Homo sapiens: one gene and its partner. The protein of the gene in region 1 interacts with the protein of each later gene in a pairwise test. Each region holds a gene or a part of one and is shown in the gene's direction. Other genes may lie near its edges.

The links. Proteins that work in one complex are often made in the same cells at the same time.
Region 2: the proteins of DZIP3 (region 1) and CEP63 interact in binary tests that used the Homo sapiens proteins (3 or more experiments, as listed by UniProt).

What each region holds. Positions count from the first base shown.
Region 1 is NC_000003.12:108,687,087-108,690,740, forward strand, and holds part of DZIP3 (E3 ubiquitin-protein ligase DZIP3), read left to right. Parts: intron 1-889; coding exon 890-1,010; intron 1,011-1,506; coding exon 1,507-1,650; intron 1,651-1,736; coding exon 1,737-1,838; intron 1,839-3,654. UniProt on the Homo sapiens protein: E3 Ubiquitin ligase proteins mediate ubiquitination and subsequent proteasomal degradation of target proteins.
Region 2 is NC_000003.12:134,548,547-134,552,200, forward strand, and holds part of CEP63 (centrosomal protein of 63 kDa), read left to right. Parts: intron 1-515; coding exon 516-630; intron 631-1,516; coding exon 1,517-1,714; intron 1,715-3,379; coding exon 3,380-3,466; intron 3,467-3,654. UniProt on the Homo sapiens protein: Required for normal spindle assembly.

The sequences.
Region 1 (3,654 bases):
TAATTATATTCCTACACAAATGAAGTTTCTTTTATCTCAACTCATATCTAAGGAAATAATTCTACTTTTCACAAGTATTTTTATTTCAATACAAACATTTAATATATATACTGGCACACTTCATTATTAAATTATAATTTTATAAATTTCATAATAGTGAATAGATAATAAAATAGAACTCTAGTACAGTTGTTATAAATATGTATAAAAACATTATAAATCAAAGGTAGTTGCATAAGGCTGATGACATGACACTTCATTTGGGAAACAAAAATATTTCATTCTACTTTGTCCCATCAAAACTGTAGATGCAGGCTTTGGATCAATGGATCTTGGGAATTAAAAAGGAACATATCAATTAAAATAATTGTGGGTTCTTTCATTATATAATTAATGTGATTTTTAACCCTTGCTTTCCTGTTCTGTTTAATCTTTGTTTTCTGAGTTTTACGAAAGTACAACTATTAACACTGATAAAGAAGAGAGAAACCAATAGCAACATAGTTAAAAATAAATATGTTATCCTGAGCAAGAAACCACTTGAGAGATGGTATAAAGAACCCAATGCATAAATAAGTGGATAAACTTAATTTTCACCTAGTGAGCTCTCAAAAACGAAGTCTCTTTTTGGAAAGAAAATAAGTACTAAACTTTATCACTCATGAAAACATTAAGTATCATTAATGAACACAATTAGGAGTTTTCCTTTTGGTTTAAGATAAATGCAGATGGACCTGTGATCACTTTTTTAGATCAAAGACCTAAAGAGTCCTGTCTGTATGCTACATATCAATCATGCGATAGGATTTTATATCTCCTTTGGTGGGTACATCCTCAAAGGTACTAAGGAAAATCATTACTGCCCTTTCCTTTCCTTGATCTCTTGCAGAAAGGAACTTACAGATTTCTTACGGAAATTGAAGGATGCTTATGGAAAATCCTTGTCTGAACTGACATTTGATGAAATTGTTTGCAAGATTTCCCAGTTTATTGACCCCAAAAAGTCTCAGGTAAAATGCAAAAACAACCAAAAAACCTGTATCTCTCTGCCCTTAACTCTAGTAGTTAACTGTTTTAAATATCTCCATAACCTGTTCAGAAAATCAGTAACTTGTAATCATATTAAATCATCTATTAACAGTAAATAACAACTTCAACTTAACAAATGATATCAGAAGTCTTTTTGAAATACCTGTTACCTAATCATTCTAGAATAAAACTGACCTCCTTGAAATTTGCTCTAGTTTCTTTGAATGAGTCTAAAGAGGGAGAGATTTTCTAATTTTCTTGAAAGATTTATTTTAATTAAAAGAATGTATAGAGTTATTTTTGTTTTTACCTAGCTCTGAGTATATAAGTATTGCCACCATTTTGTTCAAGATTTCTCACAAATCTGATTATTTACCCTTTTGCTAGTTCTTACTATACCCCGTTCTGTACTAATGTTTCAGCTCTTACTGTTTTAGGATAATTCTGAAAAAATAAACATTATGTTCTTATTTTCAGAGTCAAGGAAAATCAGTGTCAAATGTTAATTGTGTTTCACCTAGTCATTCTCCATCACAGCCTGATGCTGCCCAGCCCCCAAAACCAGCCTGGAGGCCACTCACTTCACAGGGTCCTGCCACATGGGAAGGAGCCAGTAATCCAGTGAGACTGAAATTTTTGATTCTGAACACATTTAGATTTGGGAGAAAACAATGAGCTAAATTTAACATTTTCTGTATTTTCCCTAGGATGAGGAAGAGGAAGAAGAAGAGCCTTGTGTGATCTGTCATGAGAATCTGTCTCCAGAAAATCTTTCAGTTTTGCCTTGCGCTCACAAATTCCATGCTCAGGTAACACTTTAAATTTTCCCATTAATCAGCTAAATGAGATTCATACTGCCTTACTTATTATCATATACATGTATCATTATCCATTGTTGTCTCACAAGTTCCACTGGATATAACTCTGAGCTTTTGGGTACCACACAGAAACATTTATGCTTTTCCCATACATAGCCATGGATTGCATTGTGCTCTCTCAGATCTCCATCCACCCTACAGAAGAAGGGGACAATGTTGAGAGTCAGATGGTACACAGTAGGCAGTTCCTTCGAATAGAACTGGGACAAATGTCGATTGACGTGGTAGTTTAGTGGCAGAACTAGCAACAGCACCACTTGAAATTGACATGCTATAAATACCACATAGTGTCCTTTGTCCATAATTAATGACAGCCCCCTTTCATAAAGCATAAGATTTATCAGTCTCTTCAGGCTTCTATATTTGCTTTTGAAAGATACTCAGGCTTGAGTTTTGATGTTAGAAAAATGTGAGGCATGGTGGCTCACACCTGTAATCCCAGCACTTTAGGAGGCTGAGGTGGGTGGATCATGAGGTCAGGAGATCGAGACCATCCTGGCTAACACTGTGAAACCCCATCTCTACTAAAAATACAGAAACAAAATTAGCCGGGCGTGGTGGCGGGTGCCTGTAGTCCCAGCTACTCAGGAGGCTGAGGCAGGAGAATGGTGTGAACCCAGGAGGTGGTGCTTGCAGTGAGCCGAGATCGGGCCCCTGCACTCCAGCCTGGGTGATAGAGTGAGACTCCATCTCAAAAAAAGAAAAAGAAAAATATGAGGTTGGCATGTCTTTTGTTGATTCTTGGCATTTATATAGATTAAATTCTGGTGTTACTGCCACACAGTTGCTATTGGTATATAATTAATGATCCAAGTCCTCTGTTGCAGAGATGTAATTTGACACAGGAAAAGGTAGTCATAGTAAAGAAAGGCTTTTCAGGGAAGTAAATAATAGCCAGTTCAGTCAAGCCATGTTTGTAAGACATCATTTCAAAGATATGATATGTGGTACCTGGTACAGAATTATATTTTGTATTTGCTCTAATATGAAGATACATCCACAAAATGCCTAATCCCAAAAGTTTTCTAGGAAAGATCCTTAGCCATTGACTTTCCCCTTTGAAGTTTATAAGGTTCTGACAATTTAGGAAATACATGTTTAACAAAACTTATCCTACTCTTTGCCATTGCCCACAAGTAGAAAGCATATAATTCATTCAGGTCATTTTTTATGACTATAGTTAGTGGGCCTATTATATATAGTGCTTATTATTAATCCTCTCTCATCTGACCTGGCCCTCCATTATTTATATACGTAAAAATGATTTGTTTTTGGAGAGTCAGCATTCAAGCAAGTGACTTAACAGATAGTTCATAGCCGAAAATTACTGTCATTATCGCCAAAGAAAACAATCTGAGAAGTGTATTCATGATCTAGGGATTTTAACTGCAAACACCATAAGCATTTCATACCAGGTACTAGTGACTTTTGTATCATTAGTTATGACTTTTTCTGGATTATAAATGAGAACAGTATATAGTAAACCAAAGAATATAGCAAGTTTCTCCAATTTCCTTGTCAGGAAGGATTGCTAGTCATCTTGAAAATTGAGGTTGAAGGAAGCATTTCTAGTAGAATAAACTGGCTAAAAGGTATTGTGCAGTTACCACCTATTTTGTTTAGCAAACCACAGGGAAGGTGCCATGGTTGCAGCAATTGGTTTGACGATCCACAGCGTAAGGCTTTAAAGATCCACCAGAAGACATGTTGGTTGGTAACCCTGATGCATAGAGTGACAACTGCCTCT
Region 2 (3,654 bases), about 26 Mb from region 1:
ACATTTTCTGTATGTAAAAGATAAAATTGCTTTTAACATGAACTGTTAACCTTTAGGCAAACAACAAGAGAAATATCATTTTACACTTTTTAGGTTATCTTTAAGTAATACATTTTTTGTTTTTACATTTATTTCTGGTTTTGGAAACCAGTAAGTATTTTCTTACTTTTATCTACATGTTAAATACACAAACATGCATACACACACATATTTTCTGCTTTATTCCTTTTGGAATACTTGGAGTACTTGAGATAGTCTTTGTTATTATTGAAGTATATGTGTACTCTTCCGTTTGACTAAAATTAAGTTTATTATTTTTGACGTTGGGACAACAGTTTACATTTTTATCACAGTTTTTTTATTGATTGGCTTTTTAGTAATATTTTAAATGACTGAGGTGATGTTTAAGATATTGGCTGGATATTTTTTGGATATCAAGAATGTAAATTAGATAGTCCAATTTATAGGTTTCAGGATTTTGGTTTTAAGTATGGGATCTTATTTTTGTCATACAGTTTGGAATCTGTGAGTGCAACGTGTAAACAGCTGAGCCAAGAACTAATGGAAAAATATGAAGAACTGAAGAGGATGGAAGCACATAACAATGAATACAAAGCAGAGATTAAGAAGGTAAAAATCTGCATACCTAGGATTGCAAAATTGTATGTGTTTATGGACAAAGCTGTGGATTGGGAGATTATAGGGGTTATTTTTAATGAGAAAAAAATGTAGTTCAAGGGACCACTTGATATTTAGGAGTGGAAGAGTTTGTGGAATGTGCATAGGGAAAGTGCCTTCTTTCTTTGGCATCGCCCCTGATGCCCAATAAATATTTTTAAGATAATTGAAGGCTGTCCCCTTTGAACTCAAAAACTTTATTTTAAACATGTTTTGATGAAAAGTTTTCTAAAAGACATACACTCTGTTGCTTGCAAAAAAATATGAACTGTCACTTAATATTTTCTTATTGCCTAAAGATAGTATTTATGTATTGTCTCCTGTGCTATGATGTAGTTAGTATCCTTGTCAGCTATTGAGGTATGCAGAGCTGTTTGTGTCTATATGAATGGGCCCTAACTGTCCTATTTGTTTGATTTGTATTTTTTGTTACTTCTTTAAGATTACTTCTAGTTCCTTACTTCCTCTTGTTCTATTTGTTATCCTGTGGACTAAGATACCATATGAGCAAAACTTTTAGATTCACAACTAAAAAAAAGAATGAAGGTCACAAGTACTCTCCTCTAAATTGTGTGCATGGACCTTGATTCTGGTCCTCAGCACTTGAATAACCCATCTCTCCCTGTTTTGAGGTATAATAAATGATTGTAGGTATAACCACCTGACCTTCAGTACAGATATGCAACTTGGTAAATTGCTAATTTTTCTGCAGATTTAATTTAAGAGAAATTTAATGTCTTGAGATAAGGTGAACTTTTATTTTATTAGCTAGTAACATATTATTCTATCTAAATGCTTTCTCTTAACTTTTGGTGCTTTCTTTTCTGCTTCTTTATAGTTGAAAGAACAGATTTTACAGGGTGAACAAAGTTACAGTTCTGCACTAGAAGGAATGAAGATGGAAATCTCCCATCTAACTCAGGAGTTACATCAGCGAGATATCACTATTGCTTCCACCAAAGGTTCTTCCTCAGACATGGAAAAGCGACTCAGAGCAGAGATGCAAAAGGCAGAAGACAAAGCAGTAGAGCATAAGGTGAAGCCTGAACAAAACCTTTTTTAAATTTGAAATTTGTTTTAAAGATGGAGTTGATTAAAGACATAATTTTCATAATATTTAATTCAGTGAATTTTTATTAGATACCTGCTTTGAGCTGAGAGTATGCTGGCTAGCAAAGAGTTTAGTGAGCATGGTGGGGAGGTGAGAGTAGACACAGACAAGTAAAGTGACTGTATCAGTGGTGTATGGTGAGAGTCACTAGAGATCACAAGCAGCCTGAATCTAGACCACTCGCTGCAAAGGCCTTCCAGAAGGTGTGATAGCAAAGCTAAGTTAGGAGCAAGCTGGGTGATGGGGAGGAAAAGTGTTTCAGGCACAGGAAAATACAGAGGTCTCTAAGAGAGAGTAGAAACACGCTTGCTGTGGTTGAAACTAGAGTACAAGTGGGATGAGTGGAAGGTATGAGACTGGAAAGCAGGGACTGGCTGCTGAAGGGCTACGTTAGCCACGTAAAGGAGTTATACTGTGACCTTGAGGTCAGTAGGGAATGGCTGCAAGCAGGAGTAAAATTCAGTGGTCCTTAAATGGAGAATAAGCAGGGAGACAGAGCACCCAGATGCTGTTACAGTGGTAAGATGGTGGCCTGAGCAGTGGGCAAGGGAGGCAGAGGGAAATGGATGAATTCTGGAGATACTGGGCTGGTAAAAATGACTGGGCATTGTATTTGATTGGCAGGGAAGGTGAGGTAGGCAGAGTTAAGGAATGGTGCTCCACAGGATTTAAACTTAGGCAACTGATGGAAAGTGATGCTTTTTAATGAAATAGAGAAAAGACAGGGAGCAAGTTTGGTGAAGGATGATGAATTTGTGTGAAAAGTACACAGACTGGGGAAACTGGTGGAGAGGACATTGGTTTGACACATTTGTTTGGAATAAAGGCTGGAATTTTGTATGGGTAATAGTCAATTCCACAGAAGGCCTGGAGTTGAAGATTAAAATCAGGATTAGGCATTTAGCTGTGGCTGTCCTTTCTTCATGGTGACATTTGAAACCCCCTGAGAGACTTAATGATTATAGTGAGAAAGCATAGCGTAAGAAGAGAAGTGACTCAAACCAAACTTAGGATACTTCTCATTTAGTGTAAAAAAGATGTTGGAATGAAGCTTAAAAAAAGGAGCAGTGAGGAGGGAAATCAGATAGTTTTTGCCAAGCCAAGGAAAGAAGGAATATTTTCAAATGGGAATGGTCAAGCACAAAAGCTGAGGGGAATGAGAACTGAATATAAGTTGTTATTTTGTGAATAAAGTACAATTCCATGTGACGTTGCAGGTAGAAGCCAAATTGGAGGAGGCCAGCACAGGAGAATGGGTAGGGATTTAAGGGGTTCAGTGGATTGAAACTTTGCTGCTTTGTCACCTGATTTATCCTATTAGAATGATATCTTCATCCCATTCATGTTCATTCACCTTAATAACATCTTAAAAATCTTTTTAGAAAGTCCATATATATATATATATATATATATATATATACACACACACACGTACATATATATATGTATATATATATATAAATATGTATATGTATATATATATAAATGAAGAATATGACTTAGCCTAATGAAAATTCCATGTGGAAAAATTTTGTAAGATGCATGTGATTTACATGTTATATTTATTTTTTTCTGTTTTCCCCTTTTCAGGAGATTTTGGATCAGCTGGAGTCACTCAAATTAGAAAATCGTCATCTTTCTGAAATGGTGATGAAATTGGAATTGGGTTTACATGAGGTACATAAATAGAAACTTAAGTTTTTCTACTATCCAAGCCTTCAAAAAAATTACTTTGTAAATATTTACATTATAAAGAGAGAATTAAGATCAACTTAGATCCTTTTGCAGAAATTTTCTCAAAGAAAATGAAGGTAAAACAATACTGGAAGTGAGCAAAATATGACTCTCCACTCCAGCAGCAGGAA